Linked DNA regions of Homo sapiens. The protein of the gene in region 2 interacts with the protein of the main gene of each other region in a pairwise test. Each region holds a gene or a part of one and is shown on either strand. Other genes may lie near its edges. The genes, in order: TM4SF18, CLEC2D, B3GALT5 and ENTPD8.

Region 1 (8,133 bases), on a different chromosome or scaffold from region 2:
ATTCTCGTTTCAGTGCCTGTTAGAACCTCTATGAGAGAAGGTTTCACATCGAGGAAAACGAAGAGCCAAATCAAACATTTTCATTTTTTTTTAAATTCTGCTTAAAAATCACTGGGAAGGGGAGTGGTGACTATTGGATTAAGAAACTGTAAATTTCAATGCTAGATGATATTTCCATCTCCCACCTGCAGTTCAGTCCCCCTCAAGGTTACTTTCTTTTTTTAAAAATTTATTAAGTAATTAGTTTATTTTTTATTATTATACTTTCAGTTCTAGGGTACATGTGCACAACGTGCAGGTTTGTTACATATGTATACATGTGCCATGTTGGTGTGCCGCACCCATTAACTCGTCATTTACATTAGGTATATCTCCTAATGCTATCCCTCCCCCTGTCCCCCACCCCACGACAGGCCCTGGTGTGTGATGTTCCCCTTCCTGTGTCCAAGTGTTCTCATTGTTCAGTTCCCACCTATGAGTGAGAACATGCAGTGTTTGGTTTTCTGTCCTTGCTATAGTTTGCTGAGAATTATGGTTTCCAGCTTCATCCATGTCCTCACAAAGGACATGAACTCATCCTTTTTTATGGCTGCATAGTATTCCATGGTGTATATGTGCCACATTTTCTTAATCCAGTCTACCATTGATGGGCATTTGGGTTGGTTCCAAGTCTGCTATTGTGAATAGTGCCACAATAAACATACATGTGCATGTGTCTTTATAGCAGCATGATTTATAATCCTTTGGGCATATACTCAGTAATGGGATGGATGGGTCAAATGGTATTTCTAGTTCTAAATCCTCCCTCAAGCTTATTTTCTTTCATTCCTTGAAGAGTCTAGCACCTGGCTTTCTAAATGTAGTCATTCTCTCCCAAACTGACATTGTCTAATTTTTTATTTTAGTATTCATTATAAATGATAATTCCAATACACTTCCCTTTCCATTCCTTTTCACCAGTCATCTTGTCCTCCACCTCCCTACACTACTCACTCCTAGGATCACAACTTGTGTCAGTCTGCTAGGACTGACATAACAAAACACCACAGACTGGGTGACTTGAACAAAAGACATTTATTTTCTCACAGTTCTGGAGGCCAGAATTCCAAGGTCAAAGCAGATTTGTAAGTTATGTGCCAAATCTCAAAGCAGATTTGTAAATTATGTGCCAAATCTGTGTTGGCAGATTGGTTTCTCCTGGGGCCTTTCTCTCTTTGGCTAGCAGATAGCCACTTCTCACTGTGTCCTCACACAGTCTTTTCTCTTTGCACCCCTGGAATCTCTTTGTGTGTCCAAATTCCCTCTTTTTATAATCTGATTGGATTATCCCCACCATGCTGTCCTCATTTTAACTTCATCATCACTTTAAAGGCCCTATCCAAATACAGTCACGTTTGAGATTATGGGGGGTTAGAACTTCAACATGTGCATTTAGGAGAGACATGATCAGCCCATAACACACCTCCAGACTTTTTCTTCGCCTATTCCTGAAACATCTCTAAAATCTCAAATTCCAGCATCACACTTCTCAATCACTACTTCCTCTCTTTCTAGCTCACTCTGTGTGTTACCTAAAACCAGTAATTTTTCAGCCACACTGGGACACACAATTTACAAATCCAGTGCCTCTTTTACTATTTCTCACACTCCCTCACGTCCTTACTTCCCTCCTTACTCAGCTTAAGTTCCACAGTCCATCATTATAACCATTCACTTGCATACATTCTTGAATCCTTTGCCCATCCCTCTCTTCATGGTATCTGCCTGGCAAAGTCCCAATCCTGGTTGACTCCAGCTTTCTTCCTACTTGCTGGCTACACCTCTGCCACTGAACCTTACTAGGAAAAATACCCAAGTCTCCTGTCCAGTCTCACTATCCATTCACGGTCACAGACTCAAGTGGTCCCTCAGCACCTGCCACATTTCTCTAGTCTGTTCATTCTCCCACTTTCCAAGCCAACTGTTTGAACTTCTCCTCTCTTCCTTTAAACCTTTAACACCCTCTCCCCATCCTCATTCTCAGCTGATAAAATTGCCTCCTGTTTCCCTGAGAAAACAGAAGTATAATAATCAGAAGTTCCCGCTAACCACCTCCAAGCCCATTGCTATGTTCTCCTTCTGTTCTGTTGCTGACACTGACCTGCCCTGCTGCTATCTAAGGTAAGCTCCTCCATCTGTTCACACACTCCCACCCTTTCTCACCTACTCAAGGAGCCTGTGCCAGCAATCCTCTCCTTTATCTCCTTTATGGTAAATACCTACCTACCCTCCCTCATACCCCTTCCCACAACAGTATACAAATATGCTACCATTTTTTCCATTAATTTTTGTCCCTTGACTTCTACTTTTCCTCTAGCTGCTGCCCCATTTCTCTGCCCTCCTTTACAGCAAAACTCTCCAAAAGAGTTACCTCATCTATTTCCAATTTCTCTCCTCCCATTCTCTCATGAATCCACTGCAGATGGACTCTCATCTCATCTCTAACTCACCAAGAAAGCTCCTCTTATGAAGGCCACCAGTGACCTCCACGTTGCTCAACCCAATAGCCGATTCTCAGTTCTTTCGTATGATGTGCCCTTTGGCAGCATTTAACTTTGTTGATCACGCCTTCTTCTTCTTAGAAAGTCACCTTTGAGAATAAGCTCCTGATCTTCATTTCTGGCTCACTGGCCATTTCTCAGTATCCTTTCTGCCTTCCTCTCATGTCCCTAAACTCAGTCCTGGGCTGCCCAGGATTTAGTCCTTGGGTCTCTTTTCTATCAACATGCATTTCCTTAGTGTCTCATGGGTTTAAATACCATTTATATGCTGACAACTGTCACATTTATATGTCACCCAGACCTCTTCCTTGAACTTCATATTTGTATATCCAGCTGCCTAGTTGACATCTCCACTTGGATTTCTAAAAGGTATTTCAAAACTTAGCACATTCGAAACTGACCATATCATTCCTCTTCTCCCAACCCTGCTCATTCAGCTGACTTGCTCATTTCTGTTAATGACAATTTTATTCTCCCAGTTTCTCGGGCCCAAATGATGTCGTCTTTGACTTCTCTCTTTCTCTTATACCCACATCCAATCTGCCACCAATCCTGTTGGCACAAGCTTCAAAATATATCCCAAATCCAGCTTCCTTTTTTTTTTCTTTTATTATTATACTTTAAGTTTTAGGGTACATGTGCACATTGTGCAGGTTAGTTACATATGTATACATGCGCCACGCTGGTGCTCTGCACCCACTAACTCGTCATCTAGCATTAGGTGTATCTCCCAATGCTATCCCTCCCCGCTCCCCCCACCCCACAACAGTCCCCAGAGTGTGATGTTCCCCTTCCTGTGTCCATGTGATCTCATTGTTCAATTCCCACCTATGAGTGAGAATATGCGGTGTTTGGTATCCAGCTTCCTTTTACCACCTCTGCTGCTACTACCATCATGATCCGAGTCATCATTATCTCTTACCTGGATGGTGGAAATGGCTTCAGAACTCATCTCTATCTCCTCCACACCCTTTACCACCTATTTACAACACAGCAGCCAGAGTGAACCTTTTAAAACATCAAGCACAGTGCCTGCCACATAAGAGATGCTCAATGAATGCTCAACCAACAATGTTATTCTCTTCCCAATCATCCCAGGAACTCTAGTAAATATGATTTTATGCTGCTTCTATGTGACTGGAAAAAACGTCTAATGCCCAGATTTTTTGATGCACTTAGATCAAAAGCACTAGAGGGAAAAAAAACCATATCCACAAGGGGGTGCCAAGAAACCTCTTTGGAACCTGGACTGCTAGTTTCTTTCTTTCTTTCTTTCTTTCTTTCTTTCTTTCTTTTTTTTTTTGAAACAGAGTCTTACTTTGTCACCCAGGCTGGAGTGCAGTGGAACGATCTCGGCTCACTGCAACCTCCGTCTCCCAGGTTCAAGTGATTTTCCTTCCTCAGCCTCCAGAGTAGCTGGGATTACAGGTGCCCAGCACTATGCCAGCTAATTTTTGTATTTTTAGTACAGATGGGGTTTCACCATGTTGGCCAGGCTGGTCTTGAACTCCTGACCTCAGATGATCCACCCGCCTCAGCCTCTCAAAGTGTTGAGATTACAGGCTTGAGCCATTGCGCCAGCCCTACCTTTGTTTTCTTAATAGTAGGAAAAATATGCCTTTATTTCTGTTATGATTTTTCAGAGAGGTAGAGATAATAGATGCAAACTCTTGGAAGGAAAGCTGTACTGATCTAACCAAGATATTTTGTTTTTCTCATCCACCAGTCACTTTCTCAGTCCTTTCTTATCCCTTGCAATTTGAACAAAGCTTGGTGAATAGTGTGCACACAAAAAGCACACTAGGTGAAAGACAGATACATAAAAAGGGTAAAGTCAGGATATTTTAACAAACCTATCAAGCTCTAAATATAAGCCTCCTTGGTAGTTTTCTCTTTAACCCTCTCTCCACTGTTGGATGAAATTTGCTGCATTCAATTCCAGTTCCCACCCCAACTTCCTTCTTAACACAAGGTCAGGGTTAAGCCTTCGGTGCTTTAATCCAGAGGAAAATTACTTATTTTAAAAAGCAGTGAAAAACACCGCATTCCTTTGGCACAGGATGAAGACCAGCTCAGCTCTTCAGTTGTTGATCATTGTCTATTGTTCTCCAAACAGTAAACCAGTATTTCACACTGAGATTGTCGGCTGCGGGTATATTCCAATTCCCCGTCTCCTCATGAATATGAAGTGAAGGGCTCTGACCCTGGAAGTGGTAGGTAATCTCAAAAAAAAAAAAAAAAAAGAGAGAGAGAGAGAAAAAAAAGGTCAGGTAGGAAGAAGAAAAATAGACTTTCTGTGACTGTATACTCTTGAAATCTCCCGCAGGTTCTAAGCAGGGCAAAATGGGGTCTCGGAAGTGTGGAGGCTGCCTAAGTTGTTTGCTGATTCCGCTTGCACTTTGGAGTATAATCGTGAACATATTATTGTATTTCCCGAATGGGCAAACTTCCTATGCATCCAGCAATAAACTCACCAACTACGTGTGGTATTTTGAAGGAATCTGTTTCTCAGGCATCATGGTAAGTATGAATTTGGAGACTTGGGAGAGAAGGGGGAGTTGTAATTGAGACTTACCTTGTAACTAGTAGAAGTAATGAATAATGGAAAAATCATTCTGCTAATCTTGGGTGTAGGATTTGAAAGAGGGATGGGGGTGAAGGGGCAGGTAATCTGCTGGCATTTGGGACATAGCTCTGTTTTCAATAAGCTGCTCAGCAATGCAGCCTCAGTAATGCAGGAAATTAGTCCTAATGAAAGTCTGTGGGACACTGGCCTGTAAAAACAGTATGTTCTCATGAACCCTGCATATCAATTTAAGCTATTTGATCTTCAGTGGCATTACTGTTTTCTAGAACAGATTTTCTGTCTGCACTCATGTTTTTCTAGCTTGAAGGGGCATTAGGACAGCATGAAAAAAAAGCAGAGACTTGGCTATTCAGACAAACCTGCATGTAAATCTAAGCTCTGTCATTTGTTCCATGAGACCTTCAGCAAGTTACTCAGTATCTTTGAGCCTCAGTGTTCTAATGTGAAAAATGTGAATAATGGCATTTACTTTTAAAGATAAAATATATATAAAGTGCCCAGGAGAGAGACTGACATGTAGTAGATAGCCAGTGACTGTTGTAATTATGATTATTAAAGAATGAGCTGTGTCATCATTAAAATAGTCCTACATTAGACCCTAATAATGGAGGGAGTTTTTGAAAAGTAAATTGAATTATCAATGGCAAGAATCCATGAACGTTTTCCTGATGACTTTGTGTTCTTTAAAAATAAACAAACTGAGAGTAAATCATGTTGGCAACTCAGAGGAAAAGACAATTTCCTGGTCAAGTCATTTCTAAAAATAGTGCATTATGGACTGTAAGCTAATCAGACCACCAATAATGTAGAAGAAAATTCATTATAATCTATTTCTACATCTTTTAGGGGTTTTTAATTATTATATTTGAATAGCTGTGTTGTAAAGCAATTTTCATTTAGTTATTCATTTTGCACATTAAATTAATAAACTTTAAAATATTAATATCCAATGCTATTGATGTTGCTATGAAATAAGTACATAACTAATATTGGCTGCACTACAAATAAATGTCAGTCTTTTCGGGAAGAGTTTGGTATAATATATCAAGATCCATGAAAATGCTTATGTCGTTTGACTCAGTAATCCTACATCTCATCATTTTTTCTGAGGAAATCATCCAAAATAAGGGAAGAGCTATGTGTGCAGATGTTTGTGGCTGCATTGGTATAATAGTAAATAACTAGAAGAAGCATCTTACAGAGAAGTAGCAAAATAAATTATGGTACATTCACTTCATACAGTGGTGAAAATTATAATTATGAAGATGTAACAACGTGGAAAATGCACATTATTTCATGTTAAGTGAAAAGAGACACAATAACATTGTGGGTAAATTACTATTGCAGCTGTGTCAAATAGACATATGTGGGAAAACACCAGAAATAAATGCATGAAGACTCACGAGGGTGGTGGAATTATGTGTACTTTACCTCCATTATTCTTGACTCCTCTGTATTGCAGTTATATTTTAAAACAAAAAAAGAAGGCAGTGTCTCTTTCAACAGTTGATGCCTGAGCAATAAGACTACAGGCTCTAGGTCAAATTATCTCTATCAATATTGTAATGAAGCTGGTTACTATGCTTTGGCCTTGTCTCATCATTGTTTCCCTCAATATGCAATTGCAATAGATGGAAGAGTTGCAAGACATAACTAAGATTAGACCAGAATTTCTTTCAATCTGTCATAACTAACGATGTGGAAAGGAGGGGAATATAGGACTCTTTTGCTTATATTCCATGTAAAAATTAAAACTAGGAAAAGAAACCTGTTCTCTATTTTTTTCATCTTCCAGGAATTATTAAAATATATTACTATAACTGCATCAAATCCTTTTAGGAGAAAGGAGAAGAATATAGGTAAATAATTAAATGAACAAAAAAATTAATGAAAGCTGAAGAAATTTGGAAACTAGAAACATTGGCTACGAAGAGTAAAATAACAGTGAACTCAGCTGTGGGATTCAGTCCTAAATAGTGAGAGTAAAAAAATGGGTGGAGAATTTCCCATAAGCAATTCATGATCTGTATCTAGTCTAACCAGAAATTATAATGAAATTATAATGGTAAAGAAATACATGTTCTTTCCAGAGCTCTGGCCTTTTGCCTAAAATAAAATTTAAAAAAAGGAAATAAGATGCATTGATTCTCCCACTTTGTTGGCTTGATACAGACAAAACACATTGAAACAATTTAAACCTGAGATGGTTTGAATGCATGGGGAAATTGAAGTCACTTTAAAGAGATATGGTTTCAGATTAACTGAGCCTCTCACCTCCATTCCCAGAGGACAGTAAATGAAGAGAGGCTGGCAAACTACCAAGCCTGCTGAATGATTTTCCTTGGTTCTCCACAACTGAGTCATTGAGAAAGGCAGGTTTTGCTGCCCAGGGTGGTATTCTCCTGTCCATCCATTTACTTCTCCTTAATCATTAGCTTTTGATGGTTGCTAACCATGATAATAATAGCTAACATTTATCAGTCACTATGAATCAACCACTATACTCAAAATGTCACATATATTACCTCGTGACGATCTCTTGATACCATTTTATACAGAAGGTGTCTCAAATTCACACAGCTAGAAAGTGACAGAGCTTGGATTCAAATCCATATCTACCTGACCCCAGACTCTATGCTTGAAGACGCTGTCCTCTGATTATAAGCACAAATGTAAACTAGCATTTCATTGCTAACATTTTATGTCTTCCCTCCTATAGATGCTTATAGTAACAACAGTTCTTCTGGTACTGGAGAATAATAACAACTATAAATGTTGCCAGAGTGAAAACTGCAGCAAAAAATATGTGGTAAGAGCAACAGTTTTTTTGAGGATGGTTGAGTGGGCTCCAGCTTTCTTTCCTCTCACTCAGAAACACAAAAATATTGACAGTATTATACCCTCACTACTGTTGAGTACAGTACAGAGATCAAGAGTTTACTGCCAAGATCATCTTCCATTTTGCTTAGTCTTTCCTCCACTTTTGTTCTACTGATGCACTTTCAG
Region 2 (7,812 bases):
ATCTCAATGTTTCTCCAAAATAGTGGTTGTTTCTCATTCACTTTGAAGAATTTTTTTGGCTAAAGAATTCTAAGTTGATAAGGTTTTTTCTCTTAATACTTTAAATATTTGTTTCCACTGTCTTCTTGCTTGCATGGTTTTTGAGAAGAATGTAAATGTCATTTTTATCTTTGTTTCTCTACATGTAGAATTTATTTTCCTCTGGATTCTCTTATGATTTCTTAAATCTTTGATAAAGGGGGTACAGGGGCATATGTGAACTCTATATTTTTAATTCAGTATTTCTGTCAACTTAAACTGATAAAAACTAAAATCTATTGATTAAGACAAATATCTTGGGAAACATCAATGTAAAGCTTGCTGATCTCTCTAGTGTTGGGGGGAATGTTGGAGAAAAATATGCCTATTTAGCTAAGGACAAACCTAGATAAATTAACTAGAGGTGTGAATTGTATGCAAGAGATTGTGTCAGAACAGGGTTCCAATAATGAACTTCATAAGAGGTTTTAGATAACCTAAGACATTTTGAAATATAACACAACTACAGGAAATTATACAATACAAATATGTAGCTTGATTAATTATTATAAGATAAACACCTTTGTTGACTCCTGATATGGCCTAGCTGTGTCTTTACCCAAATCTCATCTTGAATTGTAGTTCTCATAATCCCCACTTGTCATGGGAGGGACCCAGTGGGAGATAACTGAATCATGGAGTTGGTTACCCTCGTGCTGTTCTTGTGATAGCGAGTGAGTTTTCATGATATCTGATGGTTTTATAAGGGGCTTTTACCCCTTTGTTAGGCACTTCTGTCTCCTGCTGCCATGTGAAGAAGAACACGTTTGCTTCCTCTTCCACCATTATTGTAAGTTTCCTGAGGCCTCCCCAGCCATGTAGAATTGTGAGTCAGTTAAACTTCTTTCCTTTTTAAATTATCCAGTCTTGGGCAGTTCTTCATAGCAGTGAGGATGGACTAATACAACTGCTAACATTGTCTAAGAAAGATCCTTGTTATGTGGCTCAGAGGCCCTCCATGTATTCTTAACTATTCACTCTCCTATCCTTCCAAGAATAACACTAATTTGACCTCTACAATAATCACTTTATCACTCCAGTTTTGCCTTTTTTCCTCCAAAACAATGCCTTTTAAGTCTATTTTAATCGATAGATTTCCTCTTAATATCATTTAAAAATATTTCTTTACATTTTTAGACAGGAATCAGAATAATTTGCTATGTTGAATTTCCAGTTACTTGGATTTTGTTGATTTCATTCCTGTGGTTTAGTTGACATGAATCTCTCCAATTGAAAGGGTAACTTGAATATGGTAGCTGGAAAGTTAAAATCAATTCTTTTAACTTTGGAAAATGATTAAATTCTGGAGATAGAATAGTAAGTTCATAAGATGACAGGTCATTTGCATCCTCTAGTGAAAAGCGAAGGAATTAAATAAAAATAACATTTTGATGCTTAATGTTTCTGGCAGTATTATGTCTGTATTTAATTGTTAAAATGTTTTTCAATAATTTTTTCCAGGTTGTCTGCATTCAAAAGAGCATTCTATTAAAGCTACCTTAATTTGGCGCTTATTTTTCTTAATCATGTTTCTGACAATCATAGTGTGTGGAATGGTTGCTGCTTTAAGCGGTAAGTGAACTGTAATCTTTATTCATCTAGAGAGAATTATACTTGTAAAAAGAAGAGGAAGAATCTGAATAATTTTGTTATTCTTTACAGCTTTTAATATATTGTCTCACTAACTGAGTTACACTCCAATAACTTTTTAAGTGGCACCAAAAATTTTAATTATGTAAATAGGGTTCACATTATTCCAAGTTTAGTGAGATGATCAGAGTCTTCAGAAGGTAGAAGACAGACCACTATTCCTTAAGAATATTGATGCAAAAATTAAAAAAAATAGTAAACTGAAAAATAGTCTCTTGTCCGATCTAGGAACATGGTTAATTTTACCTCCACAACAACCTTGTTTCATGAAAAATAGCAAAACAGATGGTTTAAAGTACACAAAACTACTAAGTGGCTGTATAACATCACAGGCAGCCTGTTCTTTCTTCCTAGCTATTTGAGCATGTTCTGGCCCTTGTTTTTTTTAGCATATGTAGCCCATCTTCCTAGAAAACAAACTCCGTTTAGTGATTGTACCCTAAAAGCAATTAGCTATAAAAATTATCTTGTACTTCAAAACATGCTTGCAGTGCATCTAATATAGACCAAGCGAAGACATAGAAAACTACAAAAGCACTTCCCCCAAACCTCATGCCAATCTGGATATCAACCTAAAATCTACCCCCTGTTACTACATTCTGAAGTAATTTCAGAGAGACCCTTCAAATACTGCTTACGTAACTTAAGAGTCAGCAATACTTGGAGCACTCCATATAACACTCTAAATAATTTCTATTCATTTGCAAATCTTTTGCTTATTATCTTTTGGCATTTTGAAACCACAGATAATATACTTTATACATTTATGAAGCAAAAATAATTTTTTTATTTCAGAGATTTAAGTCAACTAATTGTAACTATTTAAGAAAGAAAAAATTGGAAAGAGACAATTTCTGTACTCTGTAAGTACCTCAGTATTAATCAAGGGAATGTATTCTGAAATATAATTTAAATTTATAGCTCTTTTTTTTACAGTAAGCATATGAAATTGACACTTATGACTGTTTTCCTTTATTATCCATTATGTGTTTCTCTTCCTTTCAGCTAGCACTTTGGAAATGATTTCTTGTGTGGAGCCAATAGCTGGAGCCATCTTCTAATCTGGTCATTTTCTTTCTTTCTTTTTTTAAATGTGTTATTATGTATTACTTTATATCATTTTTATGTTTTATTTAACATTTAGATTGTTAGTTAACTATTCAAGTGTGGTATTTCCCCATTTAAATCGAGTTATTTAGATTGGCTTTAGTTATAAAAATTCCTAATAGAGCTTTGTAGTTATAGCTCTGGTCCCTAACTTTTTTTTTAAATTATACTTTAAGTTCTGGGATAAATGTGCAGAACCCGCAGGTTCGTTACATAGGTATACACGTGCCATGGTGGTTTGATGCACCTATCAACCCATCATCTATATTAGGTATTTCTCCTAATGCTATCCCTCCCGTTGCCCCCCAACCCTCAACACGCCTCAGTGTGTGATGTTCCGCTCCCTGCATCCATGTGTTCTCATTGTTCAGCTCCCACATATGAGTGAGAACCTGCAGTATTTGGTTTTCTGTTCCTGTGTTAGTTTGATGAGAATGATGGTTTCCAGTTTCATTTGTCTCCCTGCAAAGAATATGAACTCATTCTTCTTTATGGCTGTATAGTATTCCATGGTGTATATGTGCCACATTTTCTTTATCCAGTCTATCATTGATGAGCATTTGGGTTGGTTCCAAGTCTTTGCTATTGTGAATAGTGCCACAATAAACATACGAGTGCATGTGTCTTTATAGTAGAATGATTTATAATCCTTTGGGTATAGACCCAGTATTTCTGGTTATAGATCCTTGAGGAATTGCCACACTGTATTTTCCAAAATGGTTGAACTAATTTACACTCCCACCAACAGTGTAAAAGTGTTCCTATTTCTCTACATCCTCTTCAGCGTCTGTTGTTTCCTGACTTTTTAATGATTGTCATTGTAACTGGCATGAGATGGTATCTCATTGTTGTTTTGATTTGAATTTCTCTAATGATCAGTTATGATGAGCTTTTTATCATATATTTGTTGGCCACATAAATGTCTTCTTTTGTGAAGTGTCTGTTCATATCTTTTGCCCATTTTTTGATAGGGTTTTTTGTTTTATTCTTGTAAATTTTTTTAAGTTCCTTGTAGATTCTAGATATTAGCTGTTTGTCAAACGGATAGATTGCAAAATTTGTCTCCCATTCTGTAGGTTGCCTGTTCACTCTGATGATAGTTTGTTTTTTGTGTTTGTTTTTTTTTTTTTTTTTTTGTGCAGAAGCTCTTTAGTTAAATTAGATCCCGCTTGTCAATTTTTGCTTTTGTTGCAATTGCTTTTGGTGTTTTAATCATAAAACCTTTGCCCATGCCTGTGTCCTGAATGGTATTGCCTAGGTTTTGTTCTCAGGTTTTTATGGTTTTAGGTCTTATGTTTAAGTCTTTAATCCATCTTGAGCTAATTTTTGTGTAAGGTGTAAGGAAGGGGTCCAGCTTCAGTTTTCTGCATATGGCTAGCCAGTTTTCTCAACACCATTTATTAAATAGGGAATCCTTTCCCCCATTGCTTGTTTTTGTCAGGTTTGTCAAAGATCAGATGGTTGTAGATGTTGGGTGTTATTTCTGAGGCCTCTGTTCTGTCCATTGGTCAATATATCTGTTTTGGTACCAACACCATGCTGTTTTGGTTACTGTAGCCTTATAGTTTAATTTGAAGTCAGGTAGCATGATGCCTCCAGCTTAGTTCTTTTTGCTTAGGATTGTCTTGGCTATACAGGCTCTTTTTTGGTTCCATATGAAATTTAAAGTTTTTTTTTTTTTAATTCTGTGAAGAAAGTCAATGGTAGCTTGATGGGAATAGCATTCAATCTATAAATTACTTTGAGCTATATGACTATTTTCATAATATTGATTCTTCCTATCTATGAGCATGGAATGATTTTCCATTTGTTTGTGTCATCTCTTATTTCCTTGAGCAGTGATTTGTAGTTCTCCTTGAAGAGGTCCTTCACATCTCTTGTAAGTTGTATTCTTAGGTATTTTATTCTCTTAGTAGCAATTGTGAATGGGAGTTCACTCATGATTTGGCTCTCTGTTTGTCTGTTATTGGTGTATAGGAATGCTTGTGATTTTTGCACATTGATTTCGTATCCTGAGAATTTGCTGAAGTTGCTTATCAGCTTAATAAGTTTTAAGGGGATGAGACAATGGGGTTTTCTAAATATACAATTCTGTCATCTGCAAACAGAGATAATTTGACTTCCTCTCTTCCTGTTGAATACACTTTCTTTCTTTCTTTCTTTTACCTGATTGCCCTGACTAGAACTTCCAATACTATATTGAATAGGAGTGGTGAGAGAGGGCATCCTTGCCTTGTGCCAGTTTACAAAGGGAATGCTTCCAGCTTTTGGCCACTCAGTATGATATTCGCTATGAGTTTGTCATAAATAGCTTTTATTATTTTAATGTATGTTCCATCAATACCTAGTCTATTGTGTGTTTTTATCATGAAGGGGTGTTCAATTTTATCAAAGGCCTTTTCTGCATCTGTTGAGATCATCATGTGGTTTTTGTCATTGGTTCTGCTTATGTAATGGATTACATTTATTAATTTACATATATTGAACCAGACTTTCATCCCAGGGATGAAACTGACTTGATCGTGGTGGATAAGCTTTTGATGTGCTGCTGGATTCGGCTGGCCAGTATTTTATTGAGGATTTTTGCATTGATGTTCATCAGGAATATTGGCCTGAAATTTTCTTTTTTGTTGTATCTCTGCTAGGTTTTGGTATCAGGATGATGCTGGTCTCATATAATGAGTTAGGGAGAATTCCTTCTTTTTCTATTGTTTGGAATAATTTCAGAAGGAATGGTACCAGCTCCTCTTCGTACCTCTGGTAGAATTCGGCAGTGCATTTGTCTGGACATGGGCTTGTTTTGGTTGGGTAGGCTATTAATTACTGCCTCAGTTTCAGAACCTGTTATTGGTCTATTCAGGAATCTGATTTCTTCCTGGTTTAGTCTTGGGAGGGTGTATGTGTCCAGGAATTTATCCATTTCTTCCTTGCCTGGGTATCACCAGCAAAGGCTGAAGAAAAGCAAAGATTGCTGCCTGCTCCTTCCTCTGGAAGCTTCATCCCAGAGGGGCACGCACCAGATGCCAGCTGAGCTGTCCTGTATGAGGTGCCTATCAACCCCTGCTAGGAGTTGTCTCCCAGTCAGGAGGCATGGGGGTCAGGGACCCACTTGAAAAGGCAGTCTTTCCCTCAGAAGAGCTCGAGCACTGTGCTGGGAGATCCACTGCTCTTTTCAGAGCTGGCTGGCAGGAATGTTTAAGTCTCCTGAAGCCGTGACCACAGCCACCCTTTCCCCCAGGTGCTCTGTCCCAGGGAGATAAGAGTTTTATCTATAAGCCCCTGACTGGGGCTGCTGCCTTTCTTTCAGAGATGCCCTGCCCAGAGAGGAGGAATCTAGAGAGGCAGTCCGGCTGCAGTGGCTTTGCTGCACTGGCTTTGCTGCACTGTGGTGGGCTCCGCCCAGTCCGAACTTCCCCCAGGGCTTTGTTTACACTGTGAGGGGAAAATCACCTACTCAAGCCTCAGTAATGGCGGATGCACCTCCCCTCACCAAGCTTGAGCATCTGGGGTCCACTTCAGACTGCTGTGCTGGCAGCAAGAATTTCCAGCCAGTGGGTCTTAGCTTGCTGGGCTCTGTGGGGATTGGACCCACTGAGCAAGACCACTTGGCTCCCTGGCTTCAGCCCCCTTTCCAGCAGAGTGAATGATTCTGTCTCAGTGGGTTCCAGGCTCCACTGGGGTATGAAAAAAACTCCTGCAGTTATCTTGGTGACTGCCCAAATCGCCACCCAGTTTTGTGCTTGAAACCCAGGGTTCTGGTAGTGTTGGCACTCCAGAGAATCTCCTGGTCTGTGGGTTGCAAAAACCGTGGGAAAAGCGTAGTATCTGGGCCAGATAGCACCTCACAGCACAGTCCCTCACAACTTCCCTTGGCTAGGGGAGGGAGTTCTCCCACCCCTTGTGCTTCCTGGGTGAAGCAGCGCCCCACCCTGCTTCTGCTTGCCCTCTGTGGGCTGCACCCACTTGTGTAACCAGTCCCAGTGAGATGATCCTGGTACCTCAGTTGGAAATGCAGAAATCACCTGCCTTCTGCATTGGTCTCACTGGGAACTGCAGACCAGAGCTGTTTCTAATCAGCCATCTTGCCCTCTCTGGTCTGGTCGTTTTCTTTAAATTGGTTGATACAGGAGCAGTGATAGCACAACAAATATGCACAGATTTGGGGAAAGTCATCCTGCATTATGGTCTGGTTCAAGAAATTACATTTTAATAGTTATAATTTGGTATCACCTTGTTTGTGATACCAAACCAGATACAATACACGTTTGCCTCATGTTATGATTTGTTATTCAGATTACACCAGTTATTATTCATAACTAAGAGTGATTTCTCATCTCACAAGAGCCAAATCCAAGGATAATGGTGCCAATTGATAGTAATGATTCTATGAATACCCAGCATTCTGGTCTATCATAGACACTTTCAGAACCATTGAGTTGAAGGTAGAAGGTGGTTATATAATAGAAGATGAACTGGTAGCTACTAGGGGCTCAGTGACAACTATCTGGAGAGACATTCATTCATCTCGATCCCACATGAAGAGAGCATTTCTCCTGATTATATAAGAAGTGGGTCAGAAAAGCCTGTCCAGTGAAGTATTGCTGCCTTCAAAGTGTAGAAAACCTCACTAAATCTCCTTAGTGGAAGGAAGTTCACTGTACAACAACTTATTTCATATTTATGATAGTATTTAGACATATACAAGGCTTTTTCACATCAAGAAACCTTATTCACATAAGGCATCTCTATCCTGCCCTTCATTTTACCAAGTCATCTGGAGCAGCAATCGCCAACCTTGTTGGCATGAGGGACCAGTTTTGTGAAAGACAACGTTTTCATGGACTGGGGTCAAGGAATGGTTTGGGGATAATTTAAGTGCATTACTTTTATTGTGCCCTTTATTTCCATTATTATTACATTGTGTAATAATATATAATAAAATAATTATACAACTCACCATAATGTAGAATCAGTGGG
Region 3 (7,812 bases), on a different chromosome or scaffold from region 2:
TTATTAATGAATGTAGTTCAGCAAGAAGTTGCATAAACTCATGTGTATGTCAAGGGATACAGGACACAAAAATGAGCACAGAAATTGATCAAATATATCATTAAATTTAACTAATTTATGCCCATAAAAATAACTACATTTTCATGTTTAAAACATCCAAAAATATAGGAAATTACCCAAGAAAAGAGAAACAGAGGAAGGAAGGAAGGAAGGAAGGAAGGAAGGAAGGAAGGAAGGAAGGAAGGGAGGGAGGGAGGGAGGGAGGGAGGGAGGGAGGGAGGGAGGAAGGAGGGAGGGATGGATGGAAAAGAGAGAGAGAGAGAAAGAAAGAGAAAGGGAGGAAGGGAGGGAGGAAGGAAGGAAAGAAGGAACGAAGGAAGGAGGGAGGGAAGGAAGGATGGAGGGAGGGAGGGAGGAAAAGAAAAGAAAAGAAAAGAAAATTTACAAGTTCAAACTAAGGAATAGTTACAAAATAAGGGAACAAGGTTGTTAGTTAAATTGTGCTGAGGTCCTTGTCATGATAGAGAAAATACCAGGAATACCAAAAATGTTTATATATCGTTAAAATACATGATTCAAGATTAAATATAATCATTAAAAATATATATACAGTCTACAGTCTGAAAACCAGCAAAAGAAGTAAAATGGGAATGTAGAAAACTGTATCAATCCAACAGGAGACGAAAAAATGAAGAAAAGAGAACTAAAGAAAAAAGGTATGAAAAAGAAAACACATAATGAGATAAAAGAATTAAATCCAAAGGCCTCAGAAATTATGTATATTATAAATGGATTAAGTTCACTTGCTTAGAAACACAATAAGCAGGTTGGAAAAAATCTACCTATATGCGAGTTCAAATGACACACCCAAAGTAAAGCTACAACGATAGGCAGGAAAGATACTTGCTATTAGTTAGGGGGAGAAAAGAAAAAGAAACCAACCCCTAATGCAGCTATGTAAGGCAAAAAGAATTCAAGCCAAAAGTATCAACACTACATAGCAATTCACCATAAATTATTATAATATAGATAGTATAATATAGATCTTTAGAACTTGTAAGCTTCAACAACACAGCATCAAAACATATAACAAAAAATTGATAGCATTCTAAGAATAAATTTTATTTTTACACATTTCTTTTAGAAACGTGTAACCAAATAGAACAAAAATTAGTAATAATGATTTGACAATGAAAATTAATAAACTTCATTTATTAAACCATACAGAAACAGAAAGTAAACATTCTTTTCAATTGCACACATACCACTTATGGGGATTAAAAATCAACAATAAAAACATACTGGAGAAAAATGTGTGTTTTGAAACTTTCAAAAGTAGGCCTCAAAAAAACTTATGGCTTAAAGAGGAAATCATAATAGATATTTTAAACCAAATAAAAATGAAAGACCAACATATCAAAACCTGTGGACAGCAATTAAAAATTATTTAGAAATAAAGTTATAGGTCAAAAGAATAAATATGTAGAATACATTAAGCATATACTTCAAGAAGCTACGAAAAAAGAGCAATAAACATTTGAAAGGTGAGAAAAAGAAAAAGACGAGGATATAACTATCAAGTCATTGATACACAGAATAAAACAACCAAAGAAATTATCTACATACTCAAAAACTGTTTCTTTCAGAAAAACTAATAAAGCAAATAAAACTTTACCAAGATTTAACAAGAAAAAAAGAGACAGAAATAAATCATATTTAAAGTCAAAAAGGTCTGCAACAGAGAAATTTTTAAAATGTTAAATCATAAGAAAATACTATGAACAATTTTATGCCAATAAATTTCAAAACTTTGAAATAATTTTCCAGCAAATCATGAATTAATGTAGTTCATTGAAAAGGAATAGAACCTGAATAAACAAAAGGAAATAGAACCTAAATAAACAATGAATCTGTCATCAGAAGTCCACTGCCTCCACTCTACGATGCAACAACCCAGAAAGATTTAGAGGTGAGCTTTACCAAATTTTAAAGGAACAACAAAAAAAAAAAACCTTTTTGTGCAAGCCATTTCCAAGAGACAGAGAAAAAATACACAACTTCAGACAAGGATAGTAAAAGAAAAGAAAATTATGAACAATATCTCTTTTGAATACAAATGGAAAGGTCCTAAATAAAACACAAGAAATGCACTAATAAATTATACCAGTAAATTAAAGGAAGAAAAAGTCTATGATTATTTCAAAAGCTACATCAAAAAAGAATCAATAAAATTCAGCACCAATTCATAATAAAAAAGAGATCTTTCTTAATTTGACAAAGGGTGTCCATCAAATATCTAAAATAGACATATTTGATAGTGAAACTTAAAAGCATTCCCATTAAGGTGAAGGTGAAGACAAGGATGTCCATTATCACTTTTTTTTCTCAGAGAAAGGGTCTCACTATGTTGCCCAGGCTAGTCTTGAACTTCTGGCCTCAAGCAATCCTCCTGCTTTGGTCTCCCAAAATGTTGGGACTACAGGCATGAGCCATTGTACCTAACCTGTCACTGCTTTTATTAAACATTGCCCTTGAGGTCCCAGCCAATGGAATAAGACCAGAAAAGATGTATATAAGAAATAAAAGAGAAGAAACTAAGCTATTCTTGTTTATAGACAATATGATTATTATGTCAGACCACATAGGCTAGGTTATGCCACAAACAACCCCAAAATCTCGGGGTCTTAACACTGCAAGTTTATCTTCTCATAAGCAAAATCAATTGCTAATTCAGGCTACTCTTGAAGGCAAGCATACAAAGGTCGGTTTATTATCATATGCTATTTTGATCTAATGGTATGCTCATATCAACATTTGCTTTAAACAAGCAGAGCAAAGACAGCTGGGAAATCATGCACCTGCAATTCAATGTCTCAGCACACATCCCTTTAGCTCCCTTTTCATTGGCCAGGGAAAGCCACATGCTTTGCGTAACTTCAAGAGGTGGGAGAAGCAAAATCCTCCCATGTGCTAGAAAGACACAAATAACCAAAATATCTAATACAATTATCTACATAAAACATCCAAGAGACTCTACATGTAAACTATCAGAACCAATAGAAAATGCATCACATTTATCAAATTTCCGTGGTATTATTACCAAAAATGCATAACTTCAGTCTGCATATAAGAAAATATCAGGCAACTCCAAATTGAGGAATACTCTACAAATAACTACCCTGAACTCTTCTGAGATGTCAAGTTTACAAAAGAGAAGACTGAGGAACTATTACAGATTGAACATGAATAAAGCAACATGAAAACCCAATGCAATATGGGATTCTGGCTGGGATCCTGGACCAGAAAAAGGACATTACAGGAAAATTGGAAAAATTCAAACAAGGTCTGAAGATTAGGAATATTATGGCCGGGCAGGCTCACGCCTGTAATCCCAGCACTCTGGGAGGCTGAAGCAGGAGGATCACTTGAGGCCAGGGGTTCGAGACCAGCCTGGCCAACATAGTGAATACTGTCTCTACCAAAAATACCGTCTCTACCAAAAAATATAAAAATTGGCCACACATGGTGGCACACGCCTGTAATCCCAGCTACTTGGGAGGCTGAGGCACGAGAATTGCTTGAACCCGGGAGGCAGAGGTTGCAGTGAGACGAAATCACACCACTGCACTCCAGCCTGGGTGACAGAGCAAGACTCTGCCTAAAAAAAATAAAAGAAAGAAAGAAAAGAAAAAGAATGGCTGAAAAGAACAAAGTGGTAACTTACCTTCCCAGACCAAGACATATTATAAAGTCACAGCAATTAAAACTTGTGGTGTTTGGGCAGAAACAAACAAAATACATCATGACAAAACAGAACAGAGATCTCAAAAATAAACCTACAAATTTTGGAAATGAACTTGACAACTGAACCTCAGATTCGTACATAGACTAAAAGGCAAAAAATAGCTAAATACATTATAAAGCAAAACAAGATGGGAAAACTTGACCTAACTTGATCTAGTATATATAAAAACTTATTACATCAATAAGATACTTGTGATTTATAAACCAATGCTATGGACGGAATTGTGTCCACCCAAAGTTCATGTGTTAAAGCTCTAACCCCAATGTGACTGTATTTGGAGACAAAGCTTTGAGGAAGTAATTAAGGTTAAATGAGGTCATAGGGTGGGATCCTAATTCAATAGGGTTGGTGGCCTCATAAGAAGAAAGGAATCTCTTTCTGCATGTAAGGACACAGACAGAATCTTTAGGATGTATCTGCATCCCTGAAGAGGGTCCTCACCAGAACCTGATCAGGCTGGCACCTTTGATCTCAGACTTCCAGCCTCCAGAACCGTGAGAAAATAATTTTATGTTGTTTAGCCATCCAGTCTATGGTATCTCATTATGGCAGCCCAAGCAGACCATAAAATAGAATAAATAGCCTCAAAACAGATCTACACAAGTATGGTATTACAAATGGTATTACAAATCACCAGAAAAAGGAGTACTGAATTAACAACCTAGGACTGACTATTCATTTGAAAAAATTGAATTTGAATCCCTAACTCACAACATATCAAAAATAAATCCAAGGAGGATTAAAAACCTAAATGTGAAAAGCAAAACTTGAAGGCTTTTAGCAAGAAATACAGTATATGAGACAATCTTTATAGCCTTAGAGTGGGGAAGAATTTCATAAGATGAAAAGCTTCTTCTTAAGAGAAAGCACAAACCATTAAAAAAAAGTGGTAAATTTCACCAAATTAAAAATGAAAACCTATTGTTCAATAAAATGTAAAAATACAAGACACAGACGGAGTAGATATTTGCAATGTATATTACTAAAATTAAGGATCTAGAATTTCTAAATGAGCTTCTATAGATCTATAAGAAAAAGACATTCCAAATGAAAAATGATCAAAATACATGAACAGGCCATTCACAGAAGAGGAAATCCAAATGGCTGAGATACATAATATACAAACAGATGATTAGTTTTACTAGAATCAGGAAAATGCATCTTAAAACACTGAGATTCTACTTCATACTCATGACAATAACAAAAATTTAAAAATCCAATAATTCTAAGGGTTGGGGAAGCTGTGGAAAAACAGGAACTGAGTTAGAGGTATAGTATGTAGGAGCATAAATTGGTACAAATCCCTTGGAAAACATTCTTCAGTATCTAGGAAAGATGCTTTTTCACCCAATGCATCTTTTCTAGGTATGTACTCTAAAGTACACTCTAACATGTATGCAAAGGAGATATGTATAAGAATGTTTATTATAGCATTTTTATATGAAAAATGAAAATCATCTAAACGTCCATTAACAAAACAATAGCTGAGCCAATTGTAGTACAATCCTACAATATAATTTTTTTTAAGAGACAAGGTCTTGCTCTGTTGCCCATGCTAGAGTGCATTGGATTGATCATGGCTCACTGCATCCCCAAACTCCTGGACCCAAGCAATCCTCCCATCTCAGCCTCCCAAGTATCTAGGACTACAGGTGCATGCCACCACGCTTGGGGTAATTTTTTATTTTTTATTTATTTATTTTTTTCATAGAGATGAGGATTCGCTATGTTGCCCAGGCTGGTATCAAACTCTTGGGCTCAAGAGATCCTCCCACCTCAGCCTACCATTTTACATAGCAATGAAAATGAATGAACTACACCCACAGAGGTATCCGATCTTCTGGCTTCCCTGGGCCACATTAGAAGAAGAATTGTCTTGGGCCACACATAAACTACGCTAACACTAACGATAGCTGATGAGCTTTTAAAAAAATCTCAAAGTTTTTAAAAAGTTTATGAATTTGTTTGGGGCCACATTCAAAGCCGTCCTGGGCTGCAGGTTGGACAAGCTTGAACTACAGCTGTGATATGGTTTAGCTCTGTGTCCCCACCCAAATCTCATCTCCGGCTGTAATCCTCAAGTGTCGAGGGAGGGAAGTGATTGGATTAAAAGGCAGTTCCCCCATGTTGTTCTCCTGATAGTGAGAGAATTCTCATGAGATCTGATGGTTTTATAAATGGTAGTTTTTCCCACACGCTCACATGTTCTCTCACTTGCTCTCTCAGGCCATGTAAGACATGCCTGCCTCCCCTTCCGCCATGATTGTAAGTTTCCTGAGGCCTCCCCAGCCATGCAGAACTGTGAATCAATTAAACCTCTTTCCTTTATAAATTACCCAGTCTCTGGAAGTTCTTTATAGCAGTGTGAAAATGGAGTAATACAAGCTATGTCTCAACATGGATAAATATTGAAAACAATGAATCAAAAAGAGCTTCAGTAGGACCATACGAAACCATTTTAGAGAGCTTGAAATATTGAAGTCAATACCATAATTAATCACAGATTTATACATAGAAGTGATGTGGAAACACACATGGAAAAGACAGTAATAATTCAGGATAGTGAGAAGGGATGAAAGGAGATGGGGAGAACTAGGGAGGGGACAGAGGGAGCTTCAACAATGCTTTCCTATTGTCTTCTACATCTAAGCAAGTATGGCCAAGTGTTAGGACACAATAGAGCTGGGATGTGGACTCACACATGCTTTTTCTATTATTATTTCACTTCTGCATGTTTGAAATACTTCAAAATTTGAAAAATAAAAAATGTAATGCCTCCAAGTTACATCCTGAATTTGGGGGCAATCCAAAACCTGAGTGTATCCTGAGAGCAACTTTTAATAAAACTATAAATTTTAATAAATTTAATCAAAATGAATAGAGACTAAATCCACCAATCATGATTATCCATCATTCCCACTGCTTCTGCTCCTTCATATCCTCAGGCCACAGAAAAGCTGATAAACTGTATCTCCAGGACACCAAAGGAAGCTCTGGGAAGGAAACGATGTTCACATAGGAGAGAAGCAATCGAGGACAATTCAAAAAATTGTTATCTAAAGGTTCAGCTGAACCTGCCCTTGTTAAATATGCTTGACAAATAAAGAAATGGCAGAGCAAATATGCATAAATACCACAGAAAGGAAGGAGGAAATGAAACAAAAGGAAATGTGCAAAAGACAAGTGAAGAAGCCACAGTCTGGAAGAAAATATACTCCCAGCAGTGGATTAAAAGTTTTCACAGTAAATGATTTATTGCTACAAGAAACTAAGAACAGGAAATCAACAAAACAGAGCCACAAGCAATGACAAGGAGACGGAACGAGATTAAAAAGGGAACTTGCAGAGTTTAGGAAGCACAGTGATCACCAAAACACCTCTATGGAAAAATGAATAAATTAGAAACAGTAAGAAAAAGAGAGAGAGCATTGCAAACGTGAATAGGAACACTGAGGAATGGTTTCCAATAATTATAAAAAATCAGAGCTCTTTCATTTTCAGAGACGGGGTCTTGCTATGTTGTCCAGGCTGGTCTCAAACTTCTGGACTCAAGCAATGCTCCTGCCTGTGTCTACAGCTTAAACAAAAAAAAAGACAGGGACCAAAATTTAAATAACAAACTAAATATTGTTCCCCTGATGTTAGTCATCTTATAAAAATAATTCTGCCCTTGCTCACAATATTCTTCTCACAACTTTTTGGGAATTACTTTTCAAATCATGTTATTTTTTAAAATTCAATAAGAAACAACTAGTTTTGTTTCCTTCTTTCCATACCTCATTCTTGATCCAAAACAATTATTACTCAGCATGGTAAAGTGCTTGGCACACAACAAGAAGTCATAATAACAACAATAGCTATAACTTAAGTAGCATGTATATACCTGGCACTGTTCTATTGTTCTTTATTATATACAGAACCACGTAATCCTCACAACCACCCCTATGAAATAAGTACTATTATTCTCTTCAATTTCAATTAACGAAACTGAGGCATAGGGAAATTAA
Region 4 (8,544 bases), on a different chromosome or scaffold from region 2:
TGGCACCTTTTCTGAGGGTGTCTACTGCCCCGCTGTGCTGTGCCCGCTAATCTGGGTGTGGCCCGATCGCACAATGGCTTTTCTGGAAGGATCCGATGCTCACGAGGCTTATTGCTAAGGAGGAAGATGCAACAGGTCCAGCTGTTCCAAGTGACTGGGTCACGCTTCACATCGATGTGCAATGTCTCCTGCCACCTGCCTGGATGCACTCTCGTGACTACCTGGCAGGCTGGGAACAGCACGGGGGAGGCCCCCGCCTGCCCCAGCGACCTGCCTGCCCTGCTCTCAAGTGCAGACCCCCAGGTCTGCACTTCCACGCTCACTACACAACCCCAAGTGGCCCCCCGGGTGGCCCCGTGGCCGGATGTGCACCCAGCAGAGCAGCCACCCTTGAGACCTGGGGTGTGGTCTGGGGGCTGTGTGGAGACCTCCCGCCAGGGTGCAGGAGTGTCTAAGGGCAAGCAGAGGTGTGATTCCTGTCTGTAAGGTAAAACCCCCGTGAGCAGGAATCAATAATGTAGACATGATCGGAATGGTGGAGGGAGCTGTGGCGGTCACACCCTTGCTGTTAGCATTGCCTCTGTGGGGGCAGGAGACAGCAAACATAAAACCTGTCCCTGAAAGGGGCAAGATGGCCCCGATGGCTCCCTGCACCTGTCCTGGTGCCTGCAGGCAGGCGGGTCAGCTCCCCTCCCGCTGCCAAATCTCCCACGTCTCTGTGCGCTCTGTCACCCCTGCTTTCTGGCCTGAGGGCTGGGAAGGGAGGTCTGGGGAGCCCAGGAGCTGAGAAGTACCCAAAAACCACCCCCAACGCCCCCCAACCCTCAGGCGTGCCTGTGAGTGTGTCTGTGTGTCTCACTCTGACTCACCCAGACAACTGACTTCAGCAGCCAACCTTGGTCATTCCCAGAACCACCACTGGGGGGCATACGTGTGGCTAGACTGGGGGCGCCCGAATATCTGTCTCTACAAAAAGTAAAAAAAAAATTAATGGGGTGTGGTGGTGGTGCGTGCCTGTGGTGTCAGCTGCTTGGGACGCTGGGGCAGGAGGATCACTTGAGCCCGAGAATTCAAGGCTACAGTGAGTTAAGATTACGCCACTGCACTCCATCCTGGGTGACAGAGCAAGACCTTGTCTCAAGAAAAAATTTTTAAATGAGTAAAATTTTAAAAAACAGATTTTGTCAGTCTTTCTGTCATTTCAACGCCTTCTCAACCTTGGTGTCTGCTGATGGCCTCTTCCCTGCTGGTCAGGATTCTCACAGTTCTTTGGGTGTGGAGGAATTCTGGTTTGTAATTTTTTTTTTTTTCTTAGAGTCTCTTTCTGTTGCCCAGGCTGGAGTGCAGTGGCACAATCTCGTCTGACTGCAACCTCCACCTTCCGGGTTCAAGTAATTCTCCTGCTTCAGACTCCCAAGTAGCTGGGATTACAGGCACCCACCACCACGCTTGGCTAATTTTTCGTATTTTTAGTAGAGACAGGGGTTTCACCATGTTGACCAGGCTGGTCTCGAACTCCTGACTTCAGGTGATCCACGTGCCTTGGCCTCCCAAAGTGCTGGGATGACAGGCATGAGCCACCACGCCTGGCCTGGTTTGTAATGTTTTGAATCTTACTTAATATGAGACTCGGAGTCTTCCTTTTATCCTATGGTGAACATTGCTGTTTTAGTTTCAGCCTCAGTGGCTATTGGTCCAAGGTCAGTTTTTCTCCAAGATTTTGGGGCACCCTCTGGTCTAGTCACACGTATGCCCCCCAGTGGTGGTTCTGGAATGACCAGGCTGGTCCTGAACTCCTGGCCTCAAGTGATCCTCCTGCCTTGGCCTCCCAAAGTGCTGGGATGACAGGTGTGAGCCACCATGCCCGGCCTGAAGACTTTAAAGTAGCTATTATAGCGGTGCCTAACTGAGCCATCGTGAGCACTTAAAATGTCAGAAGAGAAAGTCTCAGCAAAGGCTGGGCCCAGTGGCTCACGCCTGTCATCCTAGCACATTGGGAGGCCGAGGCGGATGGATCACTTGAGCACAGAAGTTTGAGAGAAGCTTGGGCAACATGGTGAAACCCTGTTTCTACTAAAAACAAAAACAAAAACAAAAATCAGCCGGGCACAGTGGTGCATGCCTGTGGTCCCAGCTACTTGGGAGGCTAAGGAGGGAGGATTGCTTGAGCCAGGGAGTTCACAGCTGCAGTGAGCTATGATCCTGCCACTGGGCCCGGTGGCTCACGCCTGTAATCCCAGCATTTTGGGAGGCCGAGGTGGGCGGATCACCTGCGTTCAGGAGTTCGAGACCAGCCTGGCCAACCTGGTGAAACCCTGTCTCTATTAAAAATACAAAAAAATTAGCCGGGTGTGGTGGCGCATGCCTGTAATCCCAGCTACTGGGGAGGCTGAGGCAGGAGAATCACCTGAACCTGGGAGGCAGAGGTTGCCGTGAGCCTACGTTGTGCCACTGTACTTCAGCCTGGGCAACAGAGTGAGACTTCGTCTCAAAAAAAAAAAATTTATATATATGTATATGTTTTAACTGAATAAAATGAAAATACAACATATCAAAAATTGAGAGAGATAGCTAAACAGTGCTTAAGAGGGAAATTCATAGCACAAATGCTTACATTAGAAAAAAAGAAAGGTTCAAGTCAATAATCTAACCTTCTGCATTAAGAAACCAGAAAAGGAGGAGCAATATAAGCTCAAATCAAGCAGAAGAAAGGAAATACAAGTAAGAGCAGAATTAAAATAATTCAAAAACCGGCCGGGCGTGGTGGCTCACGCCTGTAATCCCAGCACTTTGGGAGGCCGAGGTGGGCGGATCATGAGGTCAGGAGATCGAGACCATCCTGGCTAACACGGTGAAACCCTGTCTCTACTAAAAATACAAAAAATTAGCTGGGCGTGGTGGCACATGCCTGTAGTCCCAGCTACTCAGGAGGCTGAGGCAGGAGAATGGCGTGAACCTGGGAGGCAGAGCTTGCAGTGAGCTGAGATCCGGCCACTGCACTCCAGCCTGGGCAACAGAGAGAGACTCCGTCTCAAAAAAATTAAATTAAATTAAATTAAATTTAAAAATTCAAAAACCAAAAAGAAAAAATTATGAAACAAAAAGCAGGTTCTTTGAAATGATGAATAAAATGGATAAACCTCTAGCTAGCAACACTGATGAGAGACACAGAGGACAAAATTACCAATATGAGGAATGGGAGGGTTAGCACTGCAGACCCTACAGACATTAAAAGGATAACCAGGAAGTACTATGAATAATTGTAGTCACATAAATTTAGCAACTTAGGTGAAATGGACCAATTCCTTGAAAGCCACAAACTACCAAAACTCATTAAATAGACAACTTGAACAATCCTATTAAGTATTAAAGAAACTGAATTTGTACTTTAAAACTTTTCTAAAAAGGAAAGTACTGGCTCAGATGGTTTTACCACCAAATTATACAAAATATTTAAAGAAGAAATTTAATACAAATTCTTCAAATCCCTTCCACAAAATAAAACAAGGACAGCTGGCTGGGCGCGGTGGCTCACGCCTGTAATTCCAGCACTTTGGGAGGCCGAGGTGGGCGGATCACAAGGTCAGGAGTTTGAGACCATCCTGGCCAACATGGTGAAACCCCATCTCTACTGAAAATACAAAAAATTAGCCAGGCATGGTGGCAGGCACCTGTAATCCCAGCTACTCCGGAGACTGAGGCAGGAGAATCGCTTGAACCTGGGAGGTGGAGGTTGCAGTGAGCCAAGTCTGCACCATTGCATTCTAGCCTGGGTGACAGAGCGAGACTCCATCTCAAAAAAAAAAAAAAAAAAGGACAACTTCCCAGACTCATTTTATAAGCCCAGCATTATCCCCATACAGAAACCAGGACTAAAAAAGAAAACTATGCAACTTTGTTGAACACAACTGCAAAAATCCTCAACAAACACATTTGACTCTTATGACCCATGGCAGCTAGTGTATAAAGTTGCTGCAAACACTGAATTAAAGAATATGCTAAACTATTGCTCCTAAGGGAAATGCAAAGTTCTGTTCCTGCAAGCTTCTGGTCACATTTTTGTTAAATGATCAATATATTAATAAAACCTTCTTTTATGTGTATTTTTGTTTAAGGGCACCTTACTTAATATGTATTGTATCACTAACATTGAACTCATGGCCAACAGCGCTAACTCTTGCACGAATGAAGCTTATCCAATGTGTGTTTTCTCTGTAAAGTGCATCTCAGCCTTCTTGCATTTCTGCACTATGCTGAGACGCCATTATAAACAGTGAAATCACCAAGAAAAAGCACAAAAATGCACACACATGACACCAAATATGCTACCAGTAAAGAGAGTCCCGATTGAGACCCCAAGAGGGTTCTTGGATCTCACACAGAAAGGAATTCACCGCCCCCCCGCATTCCCCCACCCTATTCCCCGCCCCCCAACACCCCCAGCCCCACCCAGCCCGGCCCTGGCTCCGCGCCTCCCCCAGCCCCGCCCCGCTTCAGAGGCCCGGACCCCGACGGCGGCGGCCCCGGGACCCACGGCGAGCGGGAAAGGCAGAGTGGCTGCAAATGGAAAACGACGGGCGCCGCGGGGCTGCAGGCGCTTCCGCCCCCGCCCCGGGCCTGGACCTTCGGGGTCACCTGACTCCGACCTGCCCGGGCCGGGCGGCACGGGGGGTAAAGTCCGGGCCGGGGTCAGGAGCGCGGCTGCGGGCCGTGGGGGGCGGGGTCCCGGAGTTCTGCCCCTCGCAGCTCCAGGCTCCTCCTCAGCTTCCCTCTCCTGCCTCCCACCCCCCCGGGGGCGGGGCGACCCTGGGCACCGAGACAGACCCGCGGGTGGGAGATGCGGGGAGACCCTGGGCGGGGGACCCGAGGGTGGAGTGGGCGGGGCGACCTTGGGCGCTGGCCTCAGCCTGCGGGCCCTGGAGCCAGGTGCACAGCGCATCGCCCGAGGCTGTCACCGCCCTGCCCCGCCCACCCCAGCTGTCCTGGACCCAGGGGCAGGGAGAGGCTGGACGCCAGGTGCGCGGACACAGAAGCGTCTAAGCACAGCTTCCTCCTTGCCGCTCCGGGAAGTGGGCAGCCAGCCCAGGTGAGGGTCCAAAGGGATGTCCTGGGGGGGCTGTCCTGGTCTGGGGGGCTGTCCTGGTCTGGGGGGCTGTCCTGGTCTGGGGGGCTGTCCTGGTCTGGGGGGGCTGTCCTGGTCTGGGGGGCTGTCCTGGTCTGGGGGGGCTGTCCTGGTCTGGGGGACTGTTCTGTCTGAGGGGGTGTCCTGGTCTGGGGGGGCTGTCCTGGTCTGGGGGGCTGTCCTGGTCTGGGGGGCTGTCCTGGTCTGGGGGGCTGTCCTGGTCTGGGGGGGCTGTCCTGGTCTGGGGGGCTGTCCTGGTCTGGGGGGGCTGTCCTGGTCTGGGGGACTGTTCTGTCTGAGGGGGTGTCCTGGTCTGGGGGGGCTGTCCTGGTCTGGGGGGCTGTCCTGGTCTGGGGGGCTGTCCTGGTCTGGGGGGGGCTGTCCTGGTCTGGGGGGCTGTCCTGGTCTGGGGGGGCTGTCCTGGTCTGGGGGGCTGTCCTGGTCTGGGGGGGCTGTCCTGGTCTGGGGGACTGTTCTGTCTGAGGGGGTGTCCTGGTCTGGGGGGGCTGTCCTGGTCTGGGGGGCTGTCCTGGTCTGGGGGGGCTGTCCTGGTCTGGGGGGGGCTGTCCTGGTCTGGGGGGCTGTCCTGGTCTGGGGGGGCTGTCCTGGTCTGGGGGGCTGTCCTGGTCTGGGGGGGCTGTCCTGGTCTGGGGGACTGTTCTGTCTGAGGGGGTGTCCTGGTCTGGGGGGCTCTCCTGGTCTGGGGGGGGCTGTCCTGGTCTGGGGGGCTGTCCTGGTCTGGGGGACTGTTCTGTCTGAGGGGGTGTCCTGGCCTGGGGGGCTCTCCTGGTCTGGGGGGGGGCTGTCCTGGTCTGGGGGGCTGTCCTGGTCTGGGGGGGGCTGTCCTGGTCTGGGGGCTGTCCTGGTCTGGGAATCTGTTCTGTGTGAGGGGGTGTCCTGGTCTGGGGGGCTCTCCTGGTCTGGGGGGGGCTGTCCTGGTCTGGCGGGGGCTGTCCTGGTCTGGGGGGCTGTCCTGGTCTGGGGGGCTGTCCTGATCTGGGAGTCTGTTCTGTGTGAGGGGGTGTCCTGGTCTGGGGGGGCTGTCCTGGTCTCAGGGACTGTTCTGTGTGAGGGGATGTCCTGGCCTGGGGGACTCTCCTGGTCTGGGGGGGCTGTCCTGGTCTGGGGGGGCTGTCCTGGTCTGGGGGGCTGTCCTGGTCTGGGGGGGCTGTCCTGGTCTGGGGGACTGTTCTGTCTGAGGGGGTGTCCTGGTCTGGGGGGCTCTCCTGGTCTGGGGGGGGCTGTCCTGGTCTGGGGGGCTGTCCTGGTCTGGGGGACTGTTCTGTCTGAGGGGGTGTCCTGGTCTGGGGGGCTCTCCTGGTCTGGGGGCACTGTCCTGGTCTCGGGGGGGCTGTTCTGGTCTGGGGGGCGCTTTCCTGGTCTGAGGAGCTGTTCTGATCTGGGAGGCTGTTCTGGTCTTGGGGGTCTTTTGAGTGTGGGAGAGGTTGCCCCAACCTCTTTGCCTACCTGGAGGCTCAGGCCTGGGGGTCTCAGGTGGCTACATCTTCTGGGTGTGGAGTCCCTGTGTTCCTGGCCCCTGTCACCTGTTTGTCCCTATGAGGTGGCCTATGGCCTGGGTGCTGGTTGGGGACACAGGCTGGGCCCTGTCTGGGCTGGACCGGCCTCCTGTCCTCTCTGAGCCTCTGTCATCTACCCTCCTTAAAATGGGCTTATATCCCCCGGACATACAGAATTGCGTGAGGACCCCACAGCGTGTCCCACTTTCCACGTGCCCAGGAGCCCCAGGTCAGGACCAGGGCAGCACCCGCGCCTGCCACTCAGTGTGGGTGCAACGTTTCCCGGGGGAACACGATAGGACACGGTCACATGGGGTTCAGGTGCCGGGACCTTGGCAGGCAGCCTCTGGCTTTGACCACTCCTTTGGCAGTGGTACCCGTGTGAAGTGGGGCTGTATGGGGCACAGGGTCGGCCTGGGGTAGTTTGAGAGCTGAGACCCTTGCTGGGCGTTTGGGCAGAGGAGGAGGTGGACACCTCGGCCACAGGGCTAGAGAAGCCCAGGCCCCTCAGATGGCATCCCTGGGTCCACCTCCCGACCAGGCGCCATCTGGCACCAGCTAAGAAGGTGCAGAGTCAGATTAGGGAAGCCTTGGGCTGGATTTCCAGAGAAACCGATGTTGTTAAGAAGCCTCACACTCGGCTTCCTAGGATGGCTGGCCTCACCCTGGGTTCACCCACAGCCCCTCGGCAACAGTCCCCTCAGGGCTCCAGAGAGAAACCCCCACCCTAGGAGTGCCTGGGGTGGGGGCCGCAGAGAGGAGGCAGAGCCCTGGGCCCCCAGTGCAGGCTGGAGCTGTGGCTGCTCCTGGGGAGGGTGGCACGGGAGAGGCAGGACCGAGGGGTGGGGACACAGGGTGGCCCCATCACATGGTGGGGGCAGCTCCGCGAGTCCCATCCGAGGGGGTCCGAGGGGGCTACTTGGATCCTGCTGGGGCTGTGTCCCCAGACGAGGCCTCTGCTGCCCCCCGCCCCCCTCCCACAGGGCCCTCTGATGCCCATGGCACCCCTGGCAGGCGTGGCTCCTGGGGAGTGGTCCTTGGCCACGGGAGGCGTCTGAGCCCCGGGGATGCCTCTATGGCCACGGGAGACCGTCTGAGCCCCGGGGATGCCTCTATGGCCACGGGAGGCCGTCTGAGCCCCGGGGATGCCTCTATGGCCACGGGAGGCCGTCTGAGCCCCGGAGATGCCTCTATGGCCACGGGAGGCCGCCTGAGCCCCGGAGATGCCTCTAAGGCCACGGGAGACCGTCTGAGCCCCGGGGATGCCTCTATGGCCACGGGAGGCGTCTGAGCCCCGGAGATGCCTCTAAGGCAAGTGGCTGTCCAGGGGTGCGTCTCCAGGGAGACGGGGAGCGAAGCCTCTGCCTCTGGAGGGCGGGATGGGGACACCAAGTGCAGCCTGGGTGCCCACGGCCGTCCCCCCACAGGAACCAGTACCACCTGCACCATGGGGCTGTCCCGGAAGGAGCAGGTCTTCTTGGCCCTGCTGGGGGCCTCGGGGGTCTCAGGCCTCACGGCACTCATTCTCCTCCTGGTGGAGGCCACCAGCGTGCTCCTGCCCACAGACATCAAGGTGCGTCCCCGCCGGCAGGGGAGGCCGGGCCGGGTCCACAGGTGTTGCCTCCCACTCATCCCACTGTCTCCCCAGTTTGGGATCGTGTTTGATGCGGGCTCCTCCCACACGTCCCTCTTCCTGTATCAGTGGCTGGCGAACAAGGAGAATGGCACGGGTGTGGTCAGCCAGGCCCTGGCCTGCCAGGTGGAAGGTTAGTGGGCTGTTCTGCAGCCCGGTGCTGGGACCTGCCTGTTGCTGCCTGGCTGGGATTCCCAGCTGCACGGAAAGGGTTTGGAGAGGTTCAGTGACTTGGCTGAGCTCACACGCCGGGCATGGGTGCTGGGCCGGAG

Evidence for each region.
Region 1: the proteins of CLEC2D (region 2) and TM4SF18 interact in binary tests that used the Homo sapiens proteins (3 or more experiments, as listed by UniProt).
Region 3: the proteins of CLEC2D (region 2) and B3GALT5 interact in binary tests that used the Homo sapiens proteins (3 or more experiments, as listed by UniProt).
Region 4: the proteins of CLEC2D (region 2) and ENTPD8 interact in binary tests that used the Homo sapiens proteins (3 or more experiments, as listed by UniProt).

The regions. Positions count from the first base shown.
Region 1 is NC_000003.12:149,330,133-149,338,265, reverse strand, and holds the start of TM4SF18 (transmembrane 4 L6 family member 18), read left to right. Parts: upstream 1-4,629; 5' UTR 4,630-4,753; exon of another isoform or gene 4,754-4,762; intron 4,763-4,827; exon of another isoform or gene 4,828-4,866; 5' UTR 4,867-4,883; coding exon 4,884-5,060; intron 5,061-7,846; coding exon 7,847-7,936; intron 7,937-8,133.
Region 2 is NC_000012.12:9,679,384-9,687,195, forward strand, and holds part of CLEC2D (C-type lectin domain family 2 member D), read left to right. Parts: intron 1-1,539; coding exon 1,540-1,650; intron 1,651-7,812. UniProt on the Homo sapiens protein: Receptor for KLRB1 that protects target cells against natural killer cell-mediated lysis. Inhibits osteoclast formation. Inhibits bone resorption. Modulates the release of interferon-gamma. Binds high molecular weight sulfated glycosaminoglycans.
Region 3 is NC_000021.9:39,615,675-39,623,486, reverse strand, and holds part of B3GALT5 (beta-1,3-galactosyltransferase 5), read right to left. Parts: intron 1-7,812. UniProt on the Homo sapiens protein: Catalyzes the transfer of Gal to GlcNAc-based acceptors with a preference for the core3 O-linked glycan GlcNAc(beta1,3)GalNAc structure. Can use glycolipid LC3Cer as an efficient acceptor.
Region 4 is NC_000009.12:137,437,828-137,446,371, reverse strand, and holds the start of ENTPD8 (ectonucleoside triphosphate diphosphohydrolase 8), read left to right. Parts: upstream 1-5,014; 5' UTR 5,015-5,086; intron 5,087-8,066; 5' UTR 8,067-8,086; coding exon 8,087-8,212; intron 8,213-8,287; coding exon 8,288-8,405; intron 8,406-8,544. UniProt on the Homo sapiens protein: Canalicular ectonucleoside NTPDase responsible for the main hepatic NTPDase activity. Ectonucleoside NTPDases catalyze the hydrolysis of gamma- and beta-phosphate residues of nucleotides, playing a central role in concentration of extracellular nucleotides.